Homo sapiens: one gene and its partners. The protein of the gene in region 1 interacts with the protein of each later gene in a pairwise test. Each region holds a gene or a part of one and is shown on either strand. Other genes may lie near its edges.

Region 1 (7,047 bases):
AAGCACCCTAGATACAGCGGTACCAACAATCAAGTCAACCTTTGTGAAGCTTAGATCGGAGGGGATCTCACAGATTTCCTCAAACACTAACCCCAGTCTCACGTATACATCTGCATCTACCACCGAAAGCCAAGGAAAAGCTCCTTCAATCTGGGGCAGGGTAATGGGAGACTGTATAAGAAAAGGGATCTTTCTCACAGTGTTTTTTGGAGAAAACATTAAACATTTCTGAGTATGGAAGCTCAGTGCAAACAAAGACTTGAGAATTTTTAGCCTATTTATGCTGACAAAATACCCAGCATGTATCTACAACTTTCAAAACATTGTTGTGTCTCACGACGATGCCTGTCCCAGTCAAGGAGCCAGCATTTGTATTTGCCTGAGGAAAAGGTTGTGATGGGGGTGAGGGTGGATTTCGCTTGTAAGGCTGCTCATATTTCACTGTGTTTATTTTTTTAATTTGATGACACCTTCAAGAGATAAAGGGCGACAATTTATTACACCAGATATTTGACAAATTGGGACAGTATTTTATTTTATTTTAATTGTTAGAGACAGGGTCTCACTCATTTGCATAGGCTGGAGTGCAGTGGCGCCATCAAAGAGCACTGCAGCCTCAACCTCCTGGGCTCAAGCGACCCTCCCATCTCAGCCTCCCTGGTATCTGGGACTACAGGTGTGCACCACCATGGCTGGCTATCCTTATATATAAATATATACATATATTTTCAGAGACAGGGTCTTGCTCTGTCACCCAGGCTGGAGTGCAGTGGTGCAAACATGGCTCACTGCAGCCTCCACCTCCTGGACTTGAACAATCCTCTTGCCTCAGCCCCCAAGTAGCTGGGACTACAGGTGCACGCCACCACCCCCAGCTAATTTTTAATTTTTTGTAGAGATGGGGTTTCACCATGTTGGTCAGACTGGTCTCAAACTCCTGAGCTCAGGCAATCTGCCTGCTTTGGCTTCCCAAAGTGTTGGGATTACAGGTTTGAGCCACTGCACCTGGCCAATTTTAAATAAATGAGCATTTACTCACATAGAATCCTTGAATTATAAACCTGATGCCAACTTAGAGATCATCTGAGGCCCACCAATATTGTTTTGGGGAGTTTTGAGAAAAACACCATGCCCAGGCCTGACTTCAGATAAACTGAATCAGAATCTCAAGGGATGGGACCAAGGGGAATTTTCCACTTTTAAAGCTCCACAAGTGATTCCAACATGCAGCCAGGATCAAGAAACAGCTCTAGTCTCATTATTTCATTTTACCAATAAAGATATAGAAGTTCAAACAGATGAAGTGACCTGCCTAAGATCACACTGCCAGTAAGTGGTGTCTCACAACCAACTCCTCTGACTGCTAACCCAATGTTCTTTCCACTATGTTCTTTTTTTGTTTCTTCTTATAGAAAGAGCTTAGGGTTTTACTGAACATTAAAGTTATGCGATTTACAATTGAAAGAGAAGAGCTAGAGTCCAGGAAGTATTGGTGGGGCATCTTCAGAGGGCTCAACTCAGTTGTGGGTTCTCTGAAGACTACTATGCCCAGGACATAGCTCCTGCCAAGTCTCATTGATGGCAGTCAAAAGACATTTTGCTAAAGGCAATGACTAACACTGTATGCAGTGTTCATTAGTCTTGTGTTGGGTCACTTGTTCACAAATTAGTTTCACCTATGGTAGTAAACATTCATTGACAAATGTTCTCACTTTCAGGAATTAATTACATTAAAGCAAACAATAGTGGGGCAGATCGGTGCTTCTTAATATTTGAATTAGGGTAGGGGTTAGGGCAAGGAGTCACAGGTCCCATTGGAGAACTAGTGAAAACTACAAACTTCCCCACAAAAATACACATACATAAATGTTGCATGTAATTTCTGAGGATTCACCGACACCTCTCCCATCCTGTCTAAACTCATACATAAACTCCAGATTAAAATCTCCTGGACTAGATGATTTTGAAGCTCTCTTTCAGTGTTTTTCTCAAAGTGTGGTCCATGGACCACAGAATCAGAATCACTTGGGGTGTTTGTTAAAGAAGTGATTAATAAGACTGCCACAGACCTACTGTTTCAGAATCTCTGGGGAATGAGGTACAGGAATCTGTATGTTAAAAAAAAAAAACCCAAAACCAGATGGTTCTTTTGGAAACTAACACTTGAGAATCAGTGCTTTATTCCAACTCAAGATTTTTAAATGCTTTCATCTGTTGAATATTTTAGGTTTTGTCTGTTCATCTATCAAGTATAGCAAACAGTATGCTTAGTATGAACTCATTACAGAATATTTGTGTGTATGTACATAGGAAAAATATCTGGAAGTATAGATGTGGGTGTGTGTATATATGTGTGTAAATATATATAATAATGTTAATAGTAGGAATACAGATGATCTCTATTTTTCCGCTTTATCCTTCTGTTTTATTTCTCTCATTTTTTTCTTCCTGTGTTTAAAAAAGATGCTTCTTGTTTCTGAGCTCAATTCCCCCACCTGAGAACAGGGTGCTGTAACTAGGTGAATTTCAAGATCATGTCTTGTTCCGATGGTCCGTGACTCCATACTACCCCCTAGGTTCCCTCGTCCATCTCACAGCATGAACTGCATAGGTAACAACAGTGTTTGGAGAATAAGCATGTATTATTTTTGTATGTATTACGTTTGAGATGCCTAGCAACCGTTTTTGTGCCCGCAAAATTTTTCTCTTCTTTGTCAAGGAGCCAAAACGGAAATAGTCTACTATCTACGGCCCTCAAAAGTTCCTCCTCTCTCCTTAGCCTTAGAAAATACCGTCCGCCATAGGCATGGGCAAAGACCTCATGGCTAAAACACCAAAAGCAATCGCAACAAAAGTCAAAATTGACAAATGGGATCTAATTAAAAGAACTTCTGCACAGCAAAAGAAATTAGCATTAGCGTGAACAGGCAACCTGCAGAATGGGAGAAAATTTTTGCAATCTACCCATCTGACAAAGGTCTAATATCCAGAATCTACAAGGACCTTAAACAAATTTACAAGAAAAAAACAACCCCATCAAAAAGTGGGCAAAGGATATGACCAGACACTTCTCAAAAAAAGACATTTATGCAGCAACAAACATGAAAAAAAGCTCATTATCACTGATCATTAGAGAAAGGCAAATCAAAACCACAATGAGATACCATCTCACGCCAGTCAGAATGGTGATTATTAAAAAATCAGGAAACAATAGATGCTGGCGAGGCTGAGGAAAAATAGGAATGCTTTTACACTGTTGGTGGGAGTGTAAATTAGTTCAACTATTGTGGCAGACAGTGTGGCGATTCCTCAAAAATCTAGAACCAGAAATACCATTTGACGCATGCACACGTATGTTTATTGCAGCACTATTTACAATAGCAAAGACTTGGAACCAACCCAAATGCCCATCAATGATAGACTAGATAAAGAAAACGTGGCACATATATGCCATGGAATACTATGCAGCCATAAAAAAATGAGATCATGTCCTTTGCAGGGACATGGATGAAGCTGGAAGCCATCATCCTTAGCAAACTAACACAGGAACAGAAAACAAAACACTGCATGTTCTCACTCATAAGTGGGAGTTGAACAATGAGAACACATGGACACAGGGAGGGGAACAACACACACGGGGGCCTGTCAAGGGGTGGGGGCCAAGGGGAGGGAGAGCATTAGGAGAAATACCTAATGCATGTGGGGCTTAAAACCTAGATGACGGGTTGATAGGTGCAGTAAACCACCATGGCACATGTATACCTATGTAACAAAGCTGCACATTCTGCACATGTATCCCAGAACTTAAAGTAAAATTAAAAAAAAAAAAAAAAAAGAAAGAAAAAGAAAAAGAAAATGCCGTCCGCGCATATCTCTCAGGAGCATAGGAAGGGCTGTGAACCAAAAAGCCAGGGCGTGGTCGCCCCGCCCACCGGCCGCTACATCACCACCCCTCTCGCCGCTTTCAAGCGCGGAGATTGGCTGTAAGCAAGAAAGAGCCCCGCCCCTAGTCTTATGACTCGCACTGAAGCGCCGATTCCTGGCTTTTGCAAGGCTGTGGTCGGTGGTCATCAGTGCTCTTGACCCAGGTCCAGCGAGCCTTTTCCCTGGTGTTGCAGCTGTTGTTGTACCGCCGCCGTCGCCGCCGTCGCCGCCTGCTCTGCGGGGTCATGGTGTGCTTCCGCCTCTTCCCGGTTCCGGGCTCAGGGCTCGTTCTGGTCTGCCTAGTCCTGGGTGAGTTGTCGGGCCCTCCCGATTAGTCTGTCCGCCTGGGCCCGGGGCACCAGTTCAAAGCTACAACCTGAAAGACTGGTCCGAGGGGGAGGGGGTTGAGAGGCTCAGCAGCTAACACTGGGCGGCGGCGGTTGGCCCGGGGAGGCAAGCGGTGACCTAGAGAAGGCCTGACCGACGGATGGCGGGGAAGAAGGGCCCAGGAGAGTAAGAAGGGGCCGGTAACGGGGGGTGGACGCCGAGGGAGTAGGCTGGGAGGAGTGAAGCGTGGAGAGGGTCAGCGTGGAAAGAGTAACTTGGGGAAAACACTGAGGAGTGAGCGTAGGAGGGTGGTACATGCAGATTTTGGGCGCCAGAGACAATTAGGAGAGTCTTGGTTTGCTGAGATCAGGGAAGAGTTTTGAAGATGGTGGAAAAACTATGGGGTGAGATAGGAAATTAAGAGAGAAGACCATGCCTGCCTGGAGTAGCTTGGGAGAAGTGTGTGGGTGGGGGACAGATGGGACAGATAGGACAGTAGAGCCTGAGGGGCAGGGGCAGTGACAGGGTTGGGCATTTTGAAGGTTGGAATTTGAGACTGTGAAGAAAGGATGATTCAAGAGATTAGGAGTGATGCTGGGTTTGAGTTTGGTAGTCATAGTTTTAAGGGCGAAGGAACCTAAGGTAGCTGGGGCAATTTCCAGGAAAGAAAACTTGGACCCAACCTCTGGAGACTAAGGGGTTCAGGGGGAACTTTGATGGGGAGTGCACATCTGACTTGGAGGTATTGAGGATGTCGATTTTCTCCCAGTTTTGCTACTTCCTCCCAGCCAGACGCTGACAAAAAAATCCCCAGACGTTTCAGTTAGGAGGGCCTCCCAGATGTGAGGTTTTGGGGGTGGAGTATTTGAGTTTGGTAGACTACCTCTTTGCCTTCAGAGTTTCTTCTTTTCTTTCTTCCCCATCACACAGCTAGCCTATTACCTCATATTTTGGGGGTGCAGGGAGCAGGTAGACAAACTTGCTAAGGATTGGGTTGTTACCAGGGCCTAAGAATGGCTGGATGGGGCCGGGCGTGGTGGCTCATGCCTGTAATCCCAGCACTTTGGGAGGCCGAGGTGGGTGTATCACCTGAGGTCAGGAATTCAAGACCAGCCTGGCCAACATGGTGAAACCCCGTCTCTACTAAAAATACAAAAATTAGCCGGGCGTCGTGGCACATGCCTGTAATCCCAGCTGCTTGGGCGGCTGAGGCAGGAGAATCGCTTGAACCCAGAAGGCGGAGGTTGCAGTGAGCCAAGATTGCGCCATTGCACTCCAGCCTGGGCGACAAGAGTGAAACTCTGTCTCAAAAAATAAAAATAAATAAATCAATAAATAAATGGCTGGGTGAATGTTCGCTGATTGTGTTGTGCCCTAATAGGCAGTGGGTCGCTAACAACTTTAATGCCTAAAAGTGAACTTTGACTAAAGTGTCTCTTCCTGACTTTGATTCATGCTGTGCTTGTTGCTACCCACCTGCTCTTGCTATTTGTGACTTAATAAAATAACATAAAGAACAGACCCAGATGGGAGTGGGGAAGAAATAGACATATTAGGGGTCTGAGAAAGCAGTGAGAGGTATACATTTTGTAATTCACATTTCAGTAGAATGAAATCAACACCCTGGAATAGTGATTCTCAACCAGGGGACATTTGGCAACATCTGGAGACATTTTTGGTTGTAACAACTGGGGGATTGCTTTTAGCATCTAGTGGGTAGAGGCCAAGGATGCTGCTAAACATCCTAACTAAGCACAGGGCAGCCCCTGACAACAAAGAATCATCTCCCTGAAAATGTCAATGGTGCCAACATTGATAAATCCTGCTCGAAAACCATAGTATTGGAAGGGTTCTTGATTATCTAATTCAGTGACTCTCGAGGACCTTTTCATGCGTCTGTGAAATCAAAACTTCGGAATAAGGTTAAGAAGGTATTTGTCCTTTTCTGCTGGGCACAGTGGCTCACGCCTGTAATCCCAGCACTTTGGGAGGCTGAGGCGGGCGGATCACCTGAGATCAGGAGTTCAAGACCAGCCTGACCAACATGGTGAAACCCAGTCTCTACTAAAAATAGAAAAATTAGCCGGTGTCGTGGCACATGCCTGTAATCCCAGCTACTTGGGAGGCCGAGGCAGGAGAATCGCTTGAACCCAGGAGGCGGAGGTTGCGGTGAGCCAAGATTGCGCCACTGCATTCCAGCCTGGGCAACATGAGCGAAACTCTGTCTCAAAAAAAAAAAAAAAAAAAGAAGTTATTTGTCCTTTGTCCTTTTCACTCTCATCCTCTCACCAGTGTACAGCAGAGTTTTCCAGTGGCTACGTAACATGTGATGACCTCACCACTCTGATGTTCTTATATTTTATTCATTTCTCAGTTTTAATTTCTAATACTGTAAATACCAATACATATGACTCACATAAACCTCTGTGAAGTCCTCAGTGGATAAGAAAGTAAAGGGGTCCTGACACCAAAACTTTGGGAATCCCTGATGTAGTCCAACTGTTCACAGCGCGCAGGAAACTCTTCTGTAGCACTTCTGAAAGGCGGCCTTGAGGCAGGCTTTGCTTGAATACTTAATTGGAAGCCTTAACTGTACCTTGGAGCACTTACTGAGGGCCAACTGACCCTAAGAAAGGATTGTTTACAATGGAAAGTACCTTATCAGTGACTAGAACACATCTGACCAAGGCATCTGTTAATCAGTAGTTCCCTGCCAATTGAATCTGTGCACAAATACAACACTGTTATTGTTTTGGGAAAGTGAAAAAAATAATAGTTGTCCTACTTGTTGGCTTT
Region 2 (6,591 bases), on another chromosome or scaffold:
TATTTATGTTATATCTTCATATATAAAGAAAATGGAAAAAGTCAAAATCAGTTTGCTATCATTTACAATGAAAGGAAGGAAGACTAAGGATGTGTTTATGTGTGTGTGGAGACAGGAAAAGAGACAGAACCAACACTAATTACTGCAAAACGAAAAAAGAGAAAGGAAGGAAGACAGGGAGGGAGGGGGCAAAAATCTCATTCCATGCTCCACACAGTTCTCTTAAGTCTACAGGCCGAGGTTGTAGGAGCCTAGACAATCTCAGCAGGTAAGAAGATTCTAGGCCCACTAGACTTACACTTTACACTGAATTGAAGAAAATCATAAAAAGGGGTTTTGCCACCTGGATGTACAGCAGAACATAATTAAATTTAATCTTCTTGGGACAGTGTTTTAATGGGATAAATCAGCTCCCATTTAACCTCATACATAGCGACACAAAGAAAGGCCTTTCATGGCGCACGAGGTGTATAAACAAAGGGAAACCATATCTTTCTGGGCAAAACTGCTTTTCTGGATTGTTTATTATGTTTAATCAGCATTGTGGAAAATGCAACAATATCTGTTCATGGACTTGAGAACCCCAGAGTGGGAACAGCAGGTGCGGATGTGGGGAGAAGAAAGGAGGAGGGTCTGGAGAGCGGCCATAGGGGAGGCAAGTGTGAGGAGCCAGGAGTGGGGGCCCTGGGCTGCCCTAGACAGGGACATGCGGGCACCCCGTGGGGTCTTTGGCAGCTCACAGGACAATGGCAGTGGAGGTCTGCTCCCTAGAGGGCGAAGGGGGCACTGAATTCTCCCCCAGTAGCCTCTTCTCTGATCCTTCCTCATTCTGGAAAAAAAAGAAAAAAGAAATCCTTAGGGGAAAAGGATGCAGGCAGAGTTAGTATCATAGAACTCAGAAAGCAGAAAGAGGAAAGGAGGAGGGAAAGGAAAAGGTGACAGGAAAAGCAGATCAGGCAAAAAAAAAACAAGGTGGCAGAGGAAGGGGAGTCAGACGAACACCTGGGACAGGGCAGAGGGGAGAGTGGGGAGATCAGAGCAGAGGAGGGCGCAGAGAGGCACAGGGCGGCGACAGTTGGCCCAGGACCATGGTGATGGCCACATTCCCCAGACAGCAAAGGGGAGAGCTGCATATGGAAAGAAGCTGAGGGGCACCAGGCCCAGCCTCAGGTTCGGGTGCCCCTGGCCCCGCACTCCTACCTGTCCCACACACTCACCACCCAGACTCACGCTGCCCAGAGGCCCCTCCCCGACAACTCACCAGGGGCTGGGAGCTCTGGCCACACAAGTTTCGAAGACCTACTCCCAAGGAAACCAAGGACACAATGACCTTCAAGACACAGACAGCCAGGAACAGGGCACGGATTGCTGTGAACAACTTCTGGAGATAAGGGAAGAACAAAGATAGTCAGGTGTCAGCTACTCCAATGCTGCCCACATCACCACCCTCTCCACCCACCCAGGCACTGACTCTATCCAGCTTGCTGCTCCCACCACAGCTGACTGTGTTTCCAGCCACAGCTTCCATCCCGTTGGCTTGTCTGCAGAGTGAACTTATCACTCCCTGTCAAGAAGTGGAGACTATTCCTTCAACCCGTAGAATCTGGAAGGGCCTAGAACTGCTTTGGCCACAGTGAAAGTGACACTATACAGTGACAGGGAAGCCCTTAGCTGGTCTGGCAGCTTCTACTTTCTGTCTCCTGAAATGCTTGCAACTAGGGTACTCCCCATTGGAATCCAGTTTCTGTGCTATGAGAAGCCCAAGCCAAGTGGAGAAGCCATTGCCGGCTCTTGCTGACAGCCCCCGCTGAGCTCCGGACCATGCAACTACATCATCTCAGACCTCCAGCCTCGGCGAGCACTTGGATAACTTCACCCCCATCTGACTGTAACTGCATGAGAAAACCCGTGAGTGAGAATGGCTCATCTGAATCCAGCCAACTCACAGCACCGTGAGAAATAATAAGTTGTCATTTTAAGCCACTACATTTTGGTGTGGTTTTTAATTCAGTAATGGAAAACTGTGATACCAACACACCAGAAAAGCCAGAAGGGTGACCCACTATCTCCTCTCTGAAATGTCTCCTCTTTGTTCCTCACCCTCCTTGATTCAGAGAATCTTCGTGTCATGAGGTCTGAAAAATGTCTGTAGCTTACATTAAAACCTCCTGAATGAAAGACCCAGCATGAAGTCCAAGCTCAAAGAGCCTACATCTCTGTCCTCCAGGGCCCCCAGCTCCCTGGGAAAAAAGAGCTGTGATGGGTCCCCGAAGACTGGACTCTTCCTGCTCACCCTCAGCATCTGCATGTAAGCTCTACACTCCTCCTTCTGCCATTGGTTCTCTTGACTTCGCCGCATCCATCTGTACCCAGTGGTAGGGAAGACAGGGTCTGAGCGATCACACACAGTGTCGATGTATAAAAAGGGTTCAGTTTGCCAGATGAAGCTATTCACGCAGAGGACAACAGCAGCCATAGCTGTAGCAAAGCCTGCCAGGGTGAGCAGGCTGGATATATAGCCCTGGAAGAGAAAGAGGGTCATGACACACGCTCCTTCAATCGGTGGAAGAGTCATGAGGTCCCCGCCTCAAATCCCTCTCCTCTTCCCCAGCCCTTGTCCAGGAAACCCTCTCCTCCCCTCCAAGAAAGACCCCAAGATATTGACAACCAAAGGGCAGAAGACAGATAATGGAGCAGAATTCAGGAGGGGGTCAGTGAACAAGGTGGAGAGAGGGTGTCCAAGACTCACAGCAAGTTTGCCCGGGTGCTTCTCATGGACAATGGCCCCAGCTCCTGCTGCGATCACCTGAAAAGAGACACCAGAAAAAGGCCTCCAGTTTACTCTTCTGAATTGGTCTATCATCACCCTCCCACCAGCAGTTCCCAGAATAGCCAATGTGAAGCAGGATCCCAGGGACAGACAAAGAACTCTGACACACAGACCAGGATTCCACCTATACCTGCCCCACCCCTCCCATCTGTCTTCAAGAGAAAAATGGAAGTGACAGGGTTTTAGCTACACCCCAGAGCAGCCTCCTCATGGCCAAAGGCCATTTGGCTCCAGAGACTTTGGTCGCTTCCCCAAAGCCCCAACCAAGATCCATAAGCGCCTTCTTGCCCATCACCACTTGCCTCCCTCCAGGCTCACAGCCTGTTCCTTACTCACCACAGACCCCGCCCAGAAGGCACAGCCTGAGGCACTCAGCACAGTCCAGGGCCCCAAGCTGAGACACACTCCAAGAACACAACTCACAACCCCCAGCAATATCTGAGTCACCTGCAAGACAGGATGAGAAACCAGACCCCTTCCCGTGAGTCCACATGCCCCGGCTGCCCTGGGACCAGCTGCCTGGCTCCTACCTAGGTGGCTCTCCTCTCCTTTTCCTCTGCCTTGACCTCTCTGCAGCTCTGATTCTGGAAGATTCTGTCCCCTTAAAATCCATGAAGCAGCACTGGCCTGGGTCTCCCCTCACCCTTCTCATAGGCTTGGCTATTTATCCTTCATCAATTTTTCCCAACTTCAACACTTTCTCATCCCACCTGAAGATTCCCACTTTTCCCCCCCCATTCTCCTTCAGAGGTCCCATTGTCCCATCCAAACCCCCAGCCTGACCTGAGCTTCTGGCCTATCCTTTCTCTTCAGATCCAAACACACACTCTTGAGGGCTCTGTGGCAGACACAAAGAAGTGCCGCTGAGACCTCCTTCAAGAAAGGGCTTGTTTGATTGCTGACAGCCTGCAGTTGTCAGCTCCTTCAGGGTCACCCTAATTTTTCAAGCTGAAGACACACACTGAGGAGGGCCCCCCAGCCAATGATTAAGCAAGACAGTGGCTCAAGGGCCATCTCCACCCAGTGTGGAACTCCTGCAGTGGGCAACCTTTGCCTGGGAGCTCCCCCACTGGCCTGGCAGAGTCTGCATTGCAGCCTGATGGTTCCTCCTGCTCAATCCTGCTCCCCCTCTTTTCATTTCATAGGTGTCATACCCCAATAAGCCGTTCACACACCCAACTCCGACTCAGAAGAGAACTCCTCTTCTTCCTGGAAAACCCAACTGTCACCACCTCCACATCCTACCAGCATCTCGGATTTGTCACATCCAAATCCCCTACTACCACACACACACACACACACACACACACACACACACACACACCTCTCGAATGGCTGCTCCTCCTGACTTTCAGGGCTCCGATCTCCTGGTCACCCACACTTCAACCCTCTCTGCATGCTGTGAATGCCTCTCTTTCCTTATGCCCCAAACCCCTTCACTCCCATGCCATGGAGGTCTGTGAAGGACAGGGACTCCTTTGTCTCCTCACCATTTCTGCTATGATTATGTGAGTGCAGATCCTCGATCCTTCTCACCTGGATGCCTCCTGACTCTGAGGCAGGTTCCTGCTCAGAATCCATTGACAGCGTTCTCACTGTCAAAGCTGATTCAGGACAGACTCCTCACCTGGTCGTTCAAGGCTCTCAGCAATATGGGCCCAAATCACCCATTCATGAAGCCCATTCCCTTTACTCTTAACCATTATAGAACTTGCCCTATGCCTTCTGGCCTCTTTGCCTTTGCTCCTGCCATTCTTTAACCTGGAATTCTTTTTTGTCCATCTTCCACCTCTGTCTATACCTATTCCTTCTCCATTCAGGGTTCTCCTGCCCTCAAGGATGTCAGATGTGCTTCTCCCTCACCTGATCTACCTTTAGTTCCAGTCATTAGTGTAGCTGCTGTTCCTTCTGATGGTCACTGAGTACTTTTAGATATAGCCCAGGGATTCTCTCTGTAGCTTGGCCTGAAGTGCTGAACACATTGCCTTGCACCTGTAGGCTTTCAGTCCATGTGGGGTCAATAAAACCGAATTAACAGCCTCTAGACTGTTCTTCCTGTTGCCCTACCTCTGGCTGGGACCGACTCCTCTGTGCCAAAGAGGAGGTCGATTCTTCCTTTCCATCCAAATTTCTGTGGGGACACTTACAACTTTTTCCTACACAGAATGAGATATAAATAGTGATTTCTCATGTCCCTCTCATGGGAATTCAACCCACTTTCCTCTTTTGCATCCTATTGAAGAAGGAGAGTTTCCACTGTGAAAGCTGAGCCTACAAATGGGGTCATTCTTGTCACACTCAACTAAAACAGAGTCGAGAGGCCAGGGGCAAAAAGCACTCGGGGCACAAAATGTTGCTCCCAAAATGTAATTCTCTACAAATCAGGCTGCTGAAGCTGCCTGCTGCAACCTGAAACCAGCTTTATCTACAGCTTCTGACCTTGCTACAACTCTAGGATTAGTTTTACTCATGCCATCGCTCACCCATCAGAGCTCACCAGCTCCCCAAAACCTATGATCTTTCATGAAGGGCAATATGTAACATTTCTCCTTTTTATAAGCCTCTAACCTTCTCTTTGTTCTAAAGACATACTGGAGACCACCTGGTCTGTGTGTATGCCCCAAATTGCAATTCTCTCCTCCCAAATAAAACGTTTTAATTTTGAAGATTTGGCTCTATATTTTAATTGACCTCATCACCTCGTTAACGTGCCCCCCAACCCCGCACCACCCCAGTCTTACCCCTAGAGCCAGCTGCTCATAACCAATCCTGGCTGTGGAAGGCACAGTGTCCCCAGGGTGAAAAAGAAACTTCTTCAGAGAACCTCCAGCTTTCAGCAGTTGTGTCAAAGCTGACTCCTGGTGGATGTGGACGTTGACGTGGGTGGGCTGGGATGGCCTAGAGGCCATAGCAACTCCATTCACAATCACCGTGTTTTGCGTCATCCTGCCTGCCAGGGAGAAGACATATAGCAGTGAGGTCTGGGAACTAGGCGAGGGAAAAATACACAGCACAGGTGAAAGGAGAGAAATAGTGTCTTTGTCAAGATCCCAGCTGGGCACAATAGCTCACGCCTGTAATCCCAGTGCTTTGGGAGGCTGAGGTGGGTGGATTACCTGAGGTCAGGAGTTCAAGACCAGCCTGGCCAATGTGGCAAAACTCCCTCTCTACTAAAAATACAAAAATCCGCACGGTGGTGTGCACCTGTAGTCCCAGCTACTCAGGAGGCTGAGGCAGGAGAATCACTTCAACCTGGGAGGCTGAGGTTGCAGTGAGCTCAGATCTTGCCACTGCACTCCAGCCTGGGCAACAGAGTGAGACTCCATCTCAAAAAAAACAAAAACAAACAAACAAACAAACAAAAAACAGTGTCTTTGTCAAAATTCAAAGGGGCTTCCCAGTGCAGATATCAATGGCACTGGAAATCAATAGTGATTTTACACATAAAAAAGTTAAGAGATACAAAAGGGTATATATACCTTTAAAACCTTATCGCTCATCTTTTTCCCTCAACCACCTATTTGCCTTGCAGATGCAAAGTAATATTATCAGTCTCTTATAAATCCTACCATGACATTTTTGCATACAAAAGTGTGAAAAAGTATTTCTGCCCCCTTTTCCCACAAATAGCAGCATACTATACACACTGATTTGCATGATGCTGTGATCACACGATCATATGTTTTTAGAATAATCCTACATGAGTCCATAAAAAGTGTCAACCTAAATAACAGAGAGAGGCTCTCCAAAAGAAAATGAGA
Region 3 (6,605 bases), on another chromosome or scaffold:
AAATTGCTGAACAGGTGGACATGCCTAGAAGGTGGGGCACCCAGAAACGGTGTGGAAGCTCTGGACTTCTGCTGGCCTTTCCATATGCATCTCTTCCATCTGGCTGTTCATCTGTATACTTTATTATATCCTTTATTAATAAACTGGAAAATATAAGTAAAGTGTTTCCCTGGGTTCAGTGATCTGCTCTAAGCAAATTAATCAAACCTGAAGAGGTAGGCATAGAGACCCCGATTTACAGTGGGTTGGTCAAAAGTACAGGTCACAACCTGAAGCTTGTGATTGGCATCGGAAGTGGGAGGCAGTCTTGGAGGATTGAACCATTAAACTGTGGGATCTGACGCTATCTCCAAGTAAATAGTGTTAGAATTGAATTAAATTATAGGACCCCCAGCTGATGTCTGCTGGAGAATTGCTTGGTGTGTGGGAAAAACCCCCATGCATCTGGTCACAGAAGCTTTCTGTGTTATACTGAGTGAATGTAAGAGTAAGAAGAGCACTTTGGGTGAGGTGCAGTGCCTCATGCCTGTAATCCCAGCAATTTGAGAGGCTGAGACGGGCAGATCACTTGAGGCCAGGAGTTCGAGAACAGCCTGGCCAACACGGCGAAACTCTGTCTCTATAAAGAAAGAAAACTAAGAAAAAATTTAAAAAGAAAAGCATTTTGATCTTTTCCCCCATCTCTATTAGATGGTGTGAATGTACCTGGTCTCCAAGCTTTTTGAATTGTGTCTATCAGCAATACAATTTTGAACTGAAATCCCTAACGTAAGAAATGTACACAAAACCACAGAAACTTAAAAGGACGAAATAAAATATATAAATAGATGTTCTAATATTCCCACACCCCTTGGAAGGTCATGTGTACCTGCTGTCCATGCACCCCATTTTGGAGGACACTAATGGAAGAGTAAAGGCAGTGTTGGTATCTGTAGTGTGAAGAGGCCCAGGACTGCTTCAGATGATCTCTACACCTGGAATCTGACCTGAAATAAGCTCTGATCTGAAATCAGATCTGAAATCTGTAATTAAGAATCTGACTTAATTTATGTTTGACTGCTGGTGGCTTTTAAGCCTTATCCCACCCCTCGTCCCCTTATGCCCTACACCTCTGGCAAGCTAAGAAAGCCTGGGTGCTCGCCAGACATGGTGGCCCATGCCTGTAATCCCAGCACTTTGGGAGGCCGAGGCAGGAAGATGACTTGAGCCCAGCCTGGGCAACATAGTGAGACACCATCTCTTTAAAAAAATAAAGCAAGCAAGCCTGGGTGTTTCCTTCTTTGATACCAGTGGGAAATTCAAACCACATGCAAGAAACATCACTCTGGCCCTACTCCCTAACCACCAAAAAACTCCAAGTCAGTCTCCTTCCCTGTTGTCAAATCCTGCTTAGGAGCTGCCCTGCTTTCCCCAGAAAGCTTCATTATGTGAGTAACAACCCTTTCATACTCTGTTGGTGTGTGTGTGGCTTCATCAGTCATTTTTTTTTTCTTTTTGAGACAGGGTCTCACTGTGTTGCCCAGGCTACAGTGCAATGAAACAATCATAGCTCACTGTAGCCTCCAACTTCTGGGCTCAAGTGATTCTCGTGCCTCAGCCTCCTGAGCAGCTGGGACAACAGGTGTGCACAACCATGCCCAGATAATTAAAAAATTTTTTTTCTTTTTTTGCAGAGATGGGGGTCTCTCTCTGTTGCCCAGGCTGGCCTTGAACTCCTGGCCTCAAGTGATCCTCCTGCCTTGGTCTCCCTAAGTACTAGGATTACAGGCGTGAGCCACTGAACTTGGCTATCAGTCTGGACATGTGAACCAAATTTTGAGTGTGGAATGCATCCTGTCTCAGTGCGGGATGGCCACAAAAAAATAGCATCCTCCTTTACAGTCCATCTACTCCTTTCTTTTCATAGCATTTAATACCACCTGACATATTATATATTTATTGTTTGTCTTCCCCACTAGACAGATCCCCAGCTTTAGTAAAGTGTTTGGTATAATCATCCGAGTGGCTACTTTGCTAGCAGTTAAAGGCACTAGTGCTACAGTCGTGAACAAGGCCCTTGCCCACATGAAGTGTACACTCCAGAGAGAAGGGTAGGTGTTCAATACATATTTGTTAAATGATAGACTATTAATATTATTTTGTCTGGAGGTAAGATATTACAAACATATCATAAATTAAATTTTTTATTCATTTTTTTGCATCAAAATAGTGCTTAAAATTGGAATTTATACTCACAAGACATAGCTAACATCCAAAGTAGACAATTAAAAAATATTATTTGAAAATTATGTACTTAGTACTGAAGACTTCCTAAATTTGCACATTAGCTAGATTGCCATTAGCACCATTAGAGAGTTGATCTTTGGCTAATGATTATTCAGGAAAATTTCAACCATTACAATCAGTGAGTATAATTTTATATTTCAGCAACGATAGTGGTCATGTTCAGCAACAGCTTCACTTACAAATTAAAGTAAGCTCACTTCAGTGTTGCACTCTGATGCTGTTTTTTTACCCCTTCTCTTGCAAATAACCAGTGAAATAAAAATTGCTTCTAACTGGCAATCGAAACAAGGGAGGAATTATGGCTAGCCAACTAGTTGCTAATGTTTGTGTTTTTTTTATTTAAGAAACATTTTAAATAATAGAGATGGGGTCTCACCATGGTGCCCAGGCTGGTTTAAACTCCTAGGCTCAGGCAATCCTCCCACTCGGCCTCCCAACATGCTGGGATCACAGGCTTCAGCCACCATGCCCGGACTGCTAATGTTTGTGAAAGGCAAATTGTAAACTTCTATGGTTTAACTTCACCAGAAGGGTAAAGGGCTCCCCACCTGCCACCTTGTTCTATAAAAAAAGTATACTCTGATTACTAGAATGGATTTTTAAAATTCAATTCAAAGATTCAATAACTATCAACATTTCTAAACACTGATTTTTCTTTTTCTCTTTTTCAAATGTTTTTTAATATCCTGCAGGTAATAACACTGATTTTTCTAATACTCAGAAACATCTACTTAGCAGTTGTGATACTAATTTGCAAAATGTAATAATGTTATACAAATATAAGATACTACTAAATACATAGTAGAAATAATTGCATGATTCCTGATATTTATATTCAAGGTATAAACATGACTGATTTCGCTGATACTACAGAATAAAAAAAATAAAGCTGCTATGTAAAAAATTAAAGAATATCTCAATTAGATATTTTTGTTCCCAATCTCTTTCAGACAGATCTATGAAATAATATAGAATATACTATCAATATGTTCTTTCATATGAAGTGAAAAAAATGGGATTTAAGTAGTGAGATAATTTCTATTTTTTACTTTTTTAAAAAAATAGACAGGGTCTTGCTATGTTGCCCAAGCTGGTCTCAAACTCCTGGGCTCCAGTGTGCTTCCTGCCTCAGCCTCCCAAAGTGCTGGGATTATAGGCATGAGCCATTGTGCCTGGCCTGTGGGATCATTTCTATTGGTTTTATATCAGTATTAATTAATAAGTCAATCAATTAATTAACCTTAATTATTTCTTTTTCTAAATAAGTATCAGCTGATTTAATCTCGCCCAATTGAATGCGTCTCTTTTGGTTGATCAATGCGATAGAGAAACTCTGCAGGTAAGAAGTATCCAAGATATTCCACTATATCTGGAGTAGTGTCATAATGGTAGTGTCCACCTTCTCCATGACGACTAAAAAAATGAGTGTGCTCCAGTCGCAAATCAAACCCCTAAGATAACAGACAAACAATATGTTAGTACTCAAATTATTGATTAGAGTTTAAGGGGGAGGGATAACTTTTTACGTTGCAATAGTTTTTATTTTTTAAATAGGTAATACATTCACATGTTCTAAATTCAAAGGGGGCAAAACGATGTATTCAGTAAAATGTATCTTCTTCTCTCTTGCCCTCACCACTCACTCCCCTTCCTAGCAGGTAACCAGTGTAAGCATTTTCTTGTATATCCTTCCATAAATACTTACTTTTATTTTTACTCAAATGTAGTATTTTGTACACACTTTTCTGCATGTAACTTTTTTTCATGTAACAATATAGTTTTGAGATCTTTGTATATGAAATCATAAAAGAGCTTCCTCATTCTTTTATACCTGCATGGTATTCTATTGCGTATGTAACTTCTCAACTGACACTTGCATTATTTCTAATTCTTTTGCTACTACAACAATACTGTAATAATAACCTTTTAACTAGTAATTTTACACAATTATGCATATATTTAAGTATAATATCCTAGGCATGTAATCACTGGATCAAGATATGACCAGGGTAGGCGGAGTAGCTCATGCCTGTAATCCCACCACTTTGGGAGGCTGAGGCGGGCGGATCACTTGAGGTCAGGAGCTCGAGACCAGCCTGGTCAACATGGCGAAACCCTGTCTCTACTGAAAATACAAAAATTAGCCGGGTGTGGTGGTGAGTACCGGTAATCCCAGCTACTCAGGAGGGTGAGGCAGGAGAACCACATGAACCCAAGAGGCGGAGGTTGCAGTGAGCCGAGATTGCATCACTGCACTCCAGCCTGGGCAACAGAGCGAGACTCTGTCACAAAAAATAAAAAAAAGAGAAGATATGACCAATATTTTAGTAGGTATTTGCTTTGAATTGGTCTGTAATATTTTTTCTAGCGTATAGTATTATAATATAATGAACACCAAACAAGATGACAGGAGACCTGAATCCTAGTTGTGACTCTACTAATTGTTTTTTTTGAGATGGGGATTATACTGTTACCCAGGCTGGTCTCAAACTTCTGGGTTCAAGTCAGCCTCCTCAGTAGCTAAGAATACTGGGGCATGTGACCATGCCCAACTACACCTGCTATTTAATAAAATAATTTTGGGTGTTATTTAAAATGCTTGTGCCTTCATTTTCTCAAAGGTAAAATCTGCTCTGCCTAACTCATAGGATGGTGAAGAGCTCCCTTATCTTCCAAAATAATTCTAGAGGCTACCCTCATTCTTAAATAACAACAACACATGGCCGGGCATGGTGGCTCATGCTTGTAATCCCAACACTTTGGGAGGCAGAGGTGGGTGGATCACCTGAGGTCAGTGGTTTGAGACCAGCCTGACCAACGTGGTGAAACCCCGTCTACTAAATATACAAAAATTAGCCAGGCATGGTGGCAGATGCCTATAATCCCAGCTACCCGGGAGGCTGAGGCAGGAGAATCGCTTGAACCCAGGAGGCGGAGGTTGCAGTAAGCTGAGATCCTGCCATTGCACTCTAGCCTGGGCAACAAGAGTGAAACTCTGTCTCAAAACAACAACAACAACAAACACAAAAGTGCCTAGTTCTTAAAGATTATCCTAAAAATCAAGCATTATCATTGTAGTATAATATAAAAAACAGACACAGACTTACTGGGTCTCTGGAGACAAAAACTGGTAGACAAACCAAAGGAGCTTTCATTTCATAAAAATGCAACCATTTATTCACTTCTTCATCAGAGTTCAAGGGGCAGGAAGAAAATTCTGCAGGCTACAACAAAAGATAATTACATAGGTAAACATACTGAATATTACTAAGAATTAAAAATTTTAAAAATATATTTTACTTATTTATTATTATTGTTTAATTATACTTGAAGTTCTGGGTTACATGTGTAGAACATGCAGTTTTGTTATATAGGTATACACGTACCCTGGTGGTTTGCTGCACCCATCAACCTGTCACCTACATTAGGTATTTCTCCTAATGCTATCCCTCCCCTAGTCCCCCACTCCCCGAAAGGCCCCGGTGTGTGATGTTCCCCTCCCTGTGTCCATGTGTTCCCATTGTTCAACAACCCACTTATGAGTGAGAACATGGGGTGTTTGGTTTTCTGATCTTGTGATAGTTTGCTGAGAATGATGGTTTCCAGCTTCATCCATGTCCCTGAAAAGGACATAAATTCATCCTTTTTTATGGCTGCATAGTATTCCATGGTGTATATGTACCACATTTTCTTAATCCAGTCATTTGAGTTGGTTCCAAGTCTTTGCTATTGTGAATAGTGCTGCAATAAACATATGTGTGCGTGTATCTTTATCACAGAATGATTTATAATCCTTTGGGTATATGCCCAGTAATGGGATTGCCGGGTCAAATGGTATTTCCAGTTCTAGATCCTTGAGGAATCACCACACTGACTTCCACAATGGTTGAACTAATTTACACTCCCACCAACAGTGTAAAAGCATTCCTATTTTTCCACAACCTCTCCAGCATCTGTTGTTTCCTGACAGGGTCTGGCTCTGTCACCCAGGCTGGAGTGCAGTGGGATGATCACAGTGGGCCTGGAAAAAGCACCACAAGTTTCCACTCTGGTGTGTGGGATTGGCAGCTGGGCCCCCAGCCTTCAGGCCTTCCCTGGCCCGAAAGTGGGGCCTCACCGGAAACCCGCCCCCTTCTGCCCCGGAACCTGTCTGCCTCCTGCTGCCGATCACGGAATCCAGGCTGTAGGTGCCAAGGGGTGCCTGAAGGCCAGTGGGGAGCTGCTCTCAGCCGCCGCTCAGCTTCCCTTCTACGCTCGTGTCAGCGCCCCAAATCCAGAAGGGGCCGGGACGGCAGGGGGCTGGTGTGTCAGCAGTGCCC
Region 4 (7,017 bases), on another chromosome or scaffold:
AGCTACAAGACTCAGGTCTGCTTGCTTGTCCCAGGGAGGGGCTGCGGTGACTCTCATGGACAGCGGGACTTGGGCAGCTGACGGCTCTTTGGGCCCAGGCTGGGATCCAGCCCTCACCCCCAGTGAAGGTCACCCTGAAGTTTTTACCTGAACCTTCAGGCCCTCCTTAGACCACAGAAGGCAACTTCAAGAGGGAGGATCAGAACATACGACTCATAAGCCAGGCGCAGCAGCTCACACCTGTAATCCCAGCACTTTTGGGAGGCCGAGGCAGGTGGATCACGAGGTCAGGAGATCAAGACCATACTGGCTAACACGGTGAAACCCCGTCTCTACTAAAAATACAAAAAAATTAGCCGGGCATGGTGGCACGCACCTGTAGTCCCAGCTACTTGGGAGGCTGAGGCAGAATAGTGTGAACCTGGGAGGCGGAGCTTGCAGTGAGCTGACATCACACCACTGCACTCCAGCCTGGGTGACAGAGCGAGACCCCATCTTAAAAAAAAAAAAAAAAGGACATACGACTCACAGCTACCTTTTATTCAACATGTCCTGTGTGCCAGCTCCATGCTGGTCCTCATAGACATCATCTCCAAGCCCACAACAGCCCCGCGAGGTACAGCCATTATTATCTCTTTACTGACAGGACACCAATGCCCGAGACGCAGTGACTCGCCCAACATCACAGCGCTGGGGAGAGGTGCCGCTGCACCTGATCCCCACTCTGCTCACCTGTGTGGCAACTTCCTGAGAACCCTCACCCAGACCTGCCTGGCACCTTGAGTCCTTATGACCACATTCCAAGATCCTCCAAAGCTGATCTCAAGCCATGCTGGACCCGGGGCCAGCAGCCAGCATGCACACTCCAGGCTCTCTCGAGAATTGACCTGGCCAGGGAGGGGCTGGCTCCGTCCCCCGAGGCGTGCTTGGTGGTGTTCACCAGTGCTCCATCAGTCAAGGCCTGAAGCCTTGGTGAGGGAGTCGAGCAGCTGGAAGTAACTATACTTGAGGTCGTATTCCATGTCATACCAGAAATTCACTGTGGGAAGAACGGGGATCTGAGCATGAAGATCCCTCTTCTGACCTAGAGCCTCCCAAGCCTCCCCCCAGAGGCCCTGCTGGACCTTGACAGGGCCTCTCCCCAGGCGGCCTGGGCAACTCTTCACCTGCGATGCAGCCCTGGGACTGCTGGACGTGGTGGAACCACAGAGCCGGCAGATAGAGCATCTCACCGGCCCGCACCGTGCAGCGAAGGGCCTGGGCCTGACTGTAACTAGGGTACCGTGCTAGGTCTGGCGCCAAGGGGTCCAGTGGGATCCAGGGCACCTGGGAACACATCAGATGCCAGGGAGCAGCCCCCCAGACCCCCCAGGACTTCAGGCTCTGTCCCTTCCAAAGGTCAACACCACAGGCCCTGCTTGGCTCAGCAGTGAAAGGCCTCAGACTTAGAGACTTTTCAGAGCAAGGTGCCACCTCCCCAGATCTTTTGTGCCTGTTCTTCAGAGCCAGGCTTCTGCCCTTCTCCCTCCCTAGAGCCCAAGAACAGGACAGACACCTTCTCCATGGCCTCTTCATCCACCACCTTAAAGGTGCCCTCTTCAGTTAGCTGGTAGGTTGCCGGCGTGTACAGCTCTGGAGCCCAAGGGAGAAGGGTGTGGGGGAATTGCAAACAGCCTGGAACTTGCCAGACCCTCCTCCACCCCAGCCAGCCCTGGGCAGGGGCAAGGGGATCAGGGGCCCTGGTGCACTGGGGATGCCACAGCCACACCTCAGGCCTGGGAACTGGCCTCCCAGGCTCTTGCTGCCTCCCTCCCCCTTGGGCCAGCTGTTCCCCAGCCCCTCCCTGCAGGCCACATCCCCTACCATAGGGGATGAAGGGCCGGTCGCTGGGCGGATGGAACAGGAAATGCTTCTCTCCTGAGACCACGCAGTAGAGGTTCTCATAGTGGTCCTTGTGCACTGCCAACAGAAAGAAGGCCCGGGGGCAGGGTATGGAGGGCAGGGGCACGGGAGGAGGCAAACCATCATGCTGAGAGCCCTGCACCCCAAGACGTCCTATGACAAAAGAGAAGCACGCACAGAGCCAGTGGGCTGGAGATGCCAGGGGCTCTGATGGGCATTCTGGAACTCTGCCTACCAGGGACCTGATGCTCACCAGGCCCTGGACTCCTCTTCAACAAGAGGGGAAGTTCTCCTACACTTACCCCCTGGCCCAGCGGGCCTTCAGGGAGGTTTCTTTGGGTCTAGAAGAAACAATGCACCCGCCCCCAATGCCATGGGTCCATTCCCCGACCTCAGCTGTCAGGGGAAACCCTCTGTGGTGCCCGAGTCCTAGAAGCCAAAAGAAATCTTAGAGAACAGCCCAACCTCCACCCAGGGCCATCCCTCCACTCCTGGCCTCGTCTTCCCTCCCTCTGCCCCAACCTGCTCCTTCCCCACCTTTGTATTCCCCTTACACCTACAAGAAGTCACTGCAGCCGCCTCCCCCAGCCAGAAGTTCACAGCATCGGGCATCTTTCCTGCAGGGCAGAAGGCAGAGAGCAAGTTAGGAAGGCCAGGCTGGGGAAAGCTGCCATCCAGTGATGCCAGAGCCAAAACCTGGGTGAGCACAGAAGAATCCCAAGAAAGGGGTCAGGGAGAAGAGGCAGAGGTTGGGAAATCTTGGGGAAGGGGTCCTCCCTCCCTGGGGCAGAAGGAAGGACAACAATCTTTGGCAATTCATCTATGATTAAGTCAAGGCCTGGGAATGTATTTAGTGAGCTGCACCAGATGCTGACAGGACCAAGCCCATAGGCCAGGTCATCACCTAAGGGCAAACAGGCTGACCCCCCTCCTTCCCATATCTTCCCTGTCCAGGGCCACGACCACCCCACCTCCACTCACCCAGGGCTTCGGAGGCCCAGGGCACATGGGATTCCAGATCAGGCAGCAGCTGGGGCAGCTCGCTGGGCAGGTTGGAGCACTGCTTCTGCACATAGAGGACTCCAGGGTGCTGGGCCCGGCCCTCCAGCACATCCAGCACGAAGCTCAGGGGCAGGCGGCGCTCAGCTGGCATCATGAAGCGATCCCCTCTCACGGCATCCGCGTAACCATCTGGGGTCACGGCCACACTCACCTCTGTGGAGCCCACTGTGGCTCTAGAGGAATGGACACTCAGCCCATGCCCAGATGCCAGTAATCACTGCTCACACCTGACCCCAGGGCAGCTCCCACCTGAAATAGGGGAGGGACCACTTCTGGAGGGCCGGCCAGTGCTGCAGAGCGTTGCGGATAATGCACGGCCTGTTGGGGCAGACCCAGTCCCGGTAGAAGTGGAGCGGAGTTGGGGGTTTGTCCAGGTAGGGCACAGCAAGAGGCACGCAGAGCTCTGAGAGAAAGAAGAAGACAGGGGATGGAAGGGCTGATGTCTGCAGCACCCAGTCCCTGCCCAAGAGATGCCCTCCCTGGAAAGGCCGCGCTGTGTCACTGGGAAATGCTCGTTGGTGACCAAAGGACCCTGGACAACCAGTAATAGAAAGATGAGGACGGAAAAATGAAAGCAGAAAGCATCACGCACACACACCAGCATGGGCCCTGACCGTCCACAGGGCCAGAGGCTGCTACCCAGCCCATAAGCCAAATCCCCTGTGGGGCTGTGTCTGCACAGTGGACCCTATGCCTTCCCACCCTGGAGAGGCCAGCCTCCTAGCATCTACCAGGAAAGGCCACCATGGAAGTGGCATTGGGAGCTCCAGAATGAGTAAGGCTGAGGCCCCATGGCCACGGGCTATTCTGGGTGTTGTGTGGCTCTGGGAAGCCCCCTTTAACAGTGACATTTACTGAGCACCAGGAATGTGCTCAGCACTTGGCTTGGCTAATCTGGGGCTATCAGGGATGACACAATCATCATCTTAAGAAATTTACAACCTTCTTACCCGGGAAGACAAACTACCAGATGACACCAATGGAGGAAAAGGAAGGGCTCGGCTATGGTTTGGGTCCTGCTGAACAGCATCACCATCTCCAGACACCCAGGGCCACCACGTACACTTCGGCAGGCTGCGTGGTGTGCCGCCTGCGCAGGGGTCTACAGTGGCCCTGTGTCACCTCTAATCAAAATCTTTTTGACTCAGCTTTCTCCTTCACTCCCGTCATCCTACTGATTGGCTCTGAGTCCTGTTGATTCTGTCTCCTATGTCTCTCAAACCCACCGTCTCCTCTCCTCCACTGGCATCCACATTCCAGCTACCTCCTTTGGGTCCTCACTCAAATATCACATTGATAAGACTTCCTTCTCTGACTATACTTTCTAAATTTATAATCTGTCCCCCTGCTGCAAATCTTTATATCCCTTTCCGTATTTTTTCTCGTTAGCATTCATCACCATCTGACATGCTATATATTTTAGGGCTAGACGTGGTGGCTCATGTCTGTAATCCCAGCACTTTGGGAGGCAGAGGCAGGAGGATTGCTGAGGCCGGGAGGTCAAGACCAGCCTTGGCAACGTAGGGAGACCCCATCTCTACAAAAAAATTAAAAATTAACTGGACATGGTGGCATGCACCTATACTCCTAGCTACGCTAGAGGCTGAAGCCAGAGGATCACTTGAGTCCAAGAGGTAGAGGCTGCAATGAGCTATCATCGTGCCACTGCACTCCAGCCTGGGTGACAGAGCAAGACTTTATCTCAAAAAAAAAAAAAAAAAAAAAAAATATATATATATATATATATATGTATTTCACCTACATAAACTGTTTATCATTCTTTCACCCTTGCTAGAATGTGAACTCCACAAGGGCAGAGACAGTTGTCTGTTCACTGATGCACCCCTGGGACCTAGAACAGTACCTAGCACATAGCATGTGCTCAGCAAGTATTTGCCTAATGTTGAATAAAAGTCTCCAGTATCCTGGCTGGATGGTTGCAGTAGTGAACTAGCTGGTTTCTCTGGCTTAATTCCACTCCCACCCAAAGCATTCATCATCATAGCCCCAGTCATCTTCTGAAAATACAATCTCATATTGTCACACCCCTAGTAACAAATGCCTTGATGGCTTACCACTGCTCCTTAGAGAATGCTGCCTGCCTTGGCACGCATGACCAGGCCCAACCTACTCTTCCAGTCTGATTTCCTGTCTCGTGCCTGCCCTTGCCACACACCCTCTATTCAGGTGGTACCTTTGTTCCAGCTGCTCACTCAGACTGGAGTGTCTTTCTACTGGTTTTTATAAAGTGTACAGGGCTTCGCTTTGCTACATTCATGCTCTAGGTCGAGCCAGAAGGCCGTGGTTCCCATTTGGTGGTTACCACATGCTGCTCCAAATGGTCCCAGCACTGATGTTCACCTCTGAGGTTACGCTGCACCTCTCACAGCAACACCATGCCAGTCACCTTTACTTTCTGATCAGTTGGAAAGTGAATGTTCTTAGATCAAATATTGTAACTGAGTGAGAAGACCCCACTGGGCCCAGGAATACTGGAAAGGAAAGAGTTGGTGTGCCTGCTTGCTTCCCTGGCTAGAGGCAAGATGGCACCCATCCAGTAGATATGGAATCCAGGAGACAGCAAAGTGGCAAAGGCCTTCCCAGTCACGCCAGCCCATCCAAGCAGTCACCTTGAGAGATGGGGTGGTCTGGGGCTCAGTACATCTTCCTGTTGTACTCGCTGAGATTAAGAGACAGAGTCTTGCTCTGTTGCCCAGGCTGAAGTGCAGTGACGCAATAATAGCTCACCGCAGCCATAAACTGTCACGGGATCTTTGGGGTGTTGCTTTACCAGCTGGAAACCTCTGTGGCCAGTGATGCCTTTGCCTGTTTTGCTCGGGCCCATTGGGCCCACTCGGCCCTGCAGGCTGTGCTCAGCTCATGCTACCGGCCTGGATCCCACACCTGCCAAGGGCGAGTGGGGCAGCGAGGGGTGTGTGAGCGAATGAGTGTGGGGTTTGGCCACTGCGCACAGCTAGGCATGTGGGCTGCGGTGGGGCAGGCAGCTTCAGGTGCCAACACAGGTGCTGGTTTCCTGCAAGGCTGCAGCTAGACCAGGTGTACCATAAGCAGCTTCCACAGCTGACACTGGGAAGCATGGTGGTGCCTGGAAGCTTGCAGATACCAGGAACCGCAGAGCCCTAAAGAGGGTGTCAGAACCCCAGCTTGGGAAGCTCCTGGGTCTGGACTCCCCAAAGGGCCGCAGTTCTTCTTTCCTTCTGGACACCCACAATGTGGCGAGCAAGACGCATGGTTCAGTCCTCTTCATGTTACAGCTCTTTTAGCCCCGCCACTCAGCAGGTCCCAATTCTTGTCCTGCATCCAGGAAGAATGAGGTACACACAGACAAGCAGAGGGTAAACAAGACAAAGAGGAGCTTTACTGAGCCATAGGATAGCTCAGAGGAGACCCACAGTGGGCAGCTCCTCTCCGCAGCCAGGGTGTCCCAACGAGTGTTCAGCTCTCAGCAAAGAGGATAGCTCCTCTCTCTGCAGGCAGGTAGTCCTGTTGAGTGTTCAGCTCAGCAGAGCTTTGTTCCAGCTGCTCACTCAGACTGGAGTGTCTTTCTGCTGGTTTTTATAAAGTGTACAGGGCTTCGCTTTGCTACATTCATGCTCTAGGTCGAGCCAAAAGGCCGTGGTTTCCATTTGGTGGTTACCACATCCTGCTCCAAATGGTCCCGGCACTGATGTTCACCTCTGAGGTCACACTGCATCTCTCACAGCCACACCATGCCAGTCACCTTTACTTTCTGATCAGTTGGAAAGTGAATGTTCTTAGATCAAATATTGTAACTGAGTGAGAAGACCCCACTGGGCCCAGGAATACTGGAAAAGAAAGAGCTGGCATGCCTGCTTGCTTCCCTGGCTAGAGTAGCTCCTCTCTGTGGGCAGGTTGTCCTGTCATCTCTCCAGCTCTCAGCAGAGAGGGTAGCTCCTCCCCGCAGCTGGTCGTCCCATCGTCTCTTCTGGTCTGGCTGAGTCAGGGGCTTTTTATGGGTCTCACAGGGGAGGAGGTACATGCCTATTGGTCCATGGGCAGCCATGGGTGGGC

Evidence for each region.
Region 2: the proteins of LAMP2 (region 1) and TMEM176B interact in binary tests that used the Homo sapiens proteins (3 or more experiments, as listed by UniProt).
Region 3: the proteins of LAMP2 (region 1) and C11orf54 interact in binary tests that used the Homo sapiens proteins (3 or more experiments, as listed by UniProt).
Region 4: the proteins of LAMP2 (region 1) and JMJD7 interact in binary tests that used the Homo sapiens proteins (3 or more experiments, as listed by UniProt).

Annotation. Positions count from the first base shown.
Region 1 is NC_000023.11:120,466,292-120,473,338, reverse strand, and holds the start of LAMP2 (lysosome-associated membrane glycoprotein 2 isoform A precursor), read left to right. Parts: upstream 1-4,042; 5' UTR 4,043-4,169; coding exon 4,170-4,233; intron 4,234-7,047. UniProt on the Homo sapiens protein: Lysosomal membrane glycoprotein which plays an important role in lysosome biogenesis, lysosomal pH regulation and autophagy.
Region 2 is NC_000007.14:150,790,795-150,797,385, forward strand, and holds the end of TMEM176B (transmembrane protein 176B), read right to left. Parts: intron 5,781-6,591; coding exon of another isoform or gene 5,776-5,780; coding exon 5,572-5,775; intron 3,278-5,571; coding exon 3,167-3,277; intron 2,807-3,166; coding exon 2,750-2,806; intron 2,522-2,749; coding exon 2,294-2,521; intron 1,382-2,293; coding exon 1,262-1,381; intron 830-1,261; coding exon 737-829; 3' UTR 507-736; downstream 1-506. UniProt on the Homo sapiens protein: May play a role in the process of maturation of dendritic cells. Required for the development of cerebellar granule cells.
Region 3 is NC_000011.10:93,758,647-93,765,251, reverse strand, and holds the end of C11orf54 (ester hydrolase C11orf54), read right to left. Parts: intron 5,511-6,605; coding exon 5,394-5,510; intron 3,738-5,393; coding exon 3,564-3,737; 3' UTR 503-3,563; downstream 1-502. UniProt on the Homo sapiens protein: Exhibits ester hydrolase activity on the substrate p-nitrophenyl acetate, in vitro. Regulates DNA damage and repair by regulating HIF1A degradation via chaperone-mediated autophagy (CMA).
Region 4 is NC_000015.10:41,831,090-41,838,106, reverse strand, and holds the end of JMJD7 (bifunctional peptidase and (3S)-lysyl hydroxylase JMJD7), read right to left. Parts: intron 3,368-7,017; coding exon 3,214-3,367; intron 3,138-3,213; coding exon 2,884-3,137; intron 2,520-2,883; coding exon 2,463-2,519; intron 1,960-2,462; coding exon 1,864-1,959; intron 1,633-1,863; coding exon 1,556-1,632; intron 1,327-1,555; coding exon 1,167-1,326; intron 1,040-1,166; coding exon 951-1,039; 3' UTR 526-950; downstream 1-525. Other genes in the region: JMJD7-PLA2G4B protein, read right to left, coding at 1,556-1,632, 1,864-1,959, 2,463-2,519, 2,884-3,137, 3,214-3,367. UniProt on the Homo sapiens protein: Bifunctional enzyme that acts both as an endopeptidase and 2-oxoglutarate-dependent monooxygenase.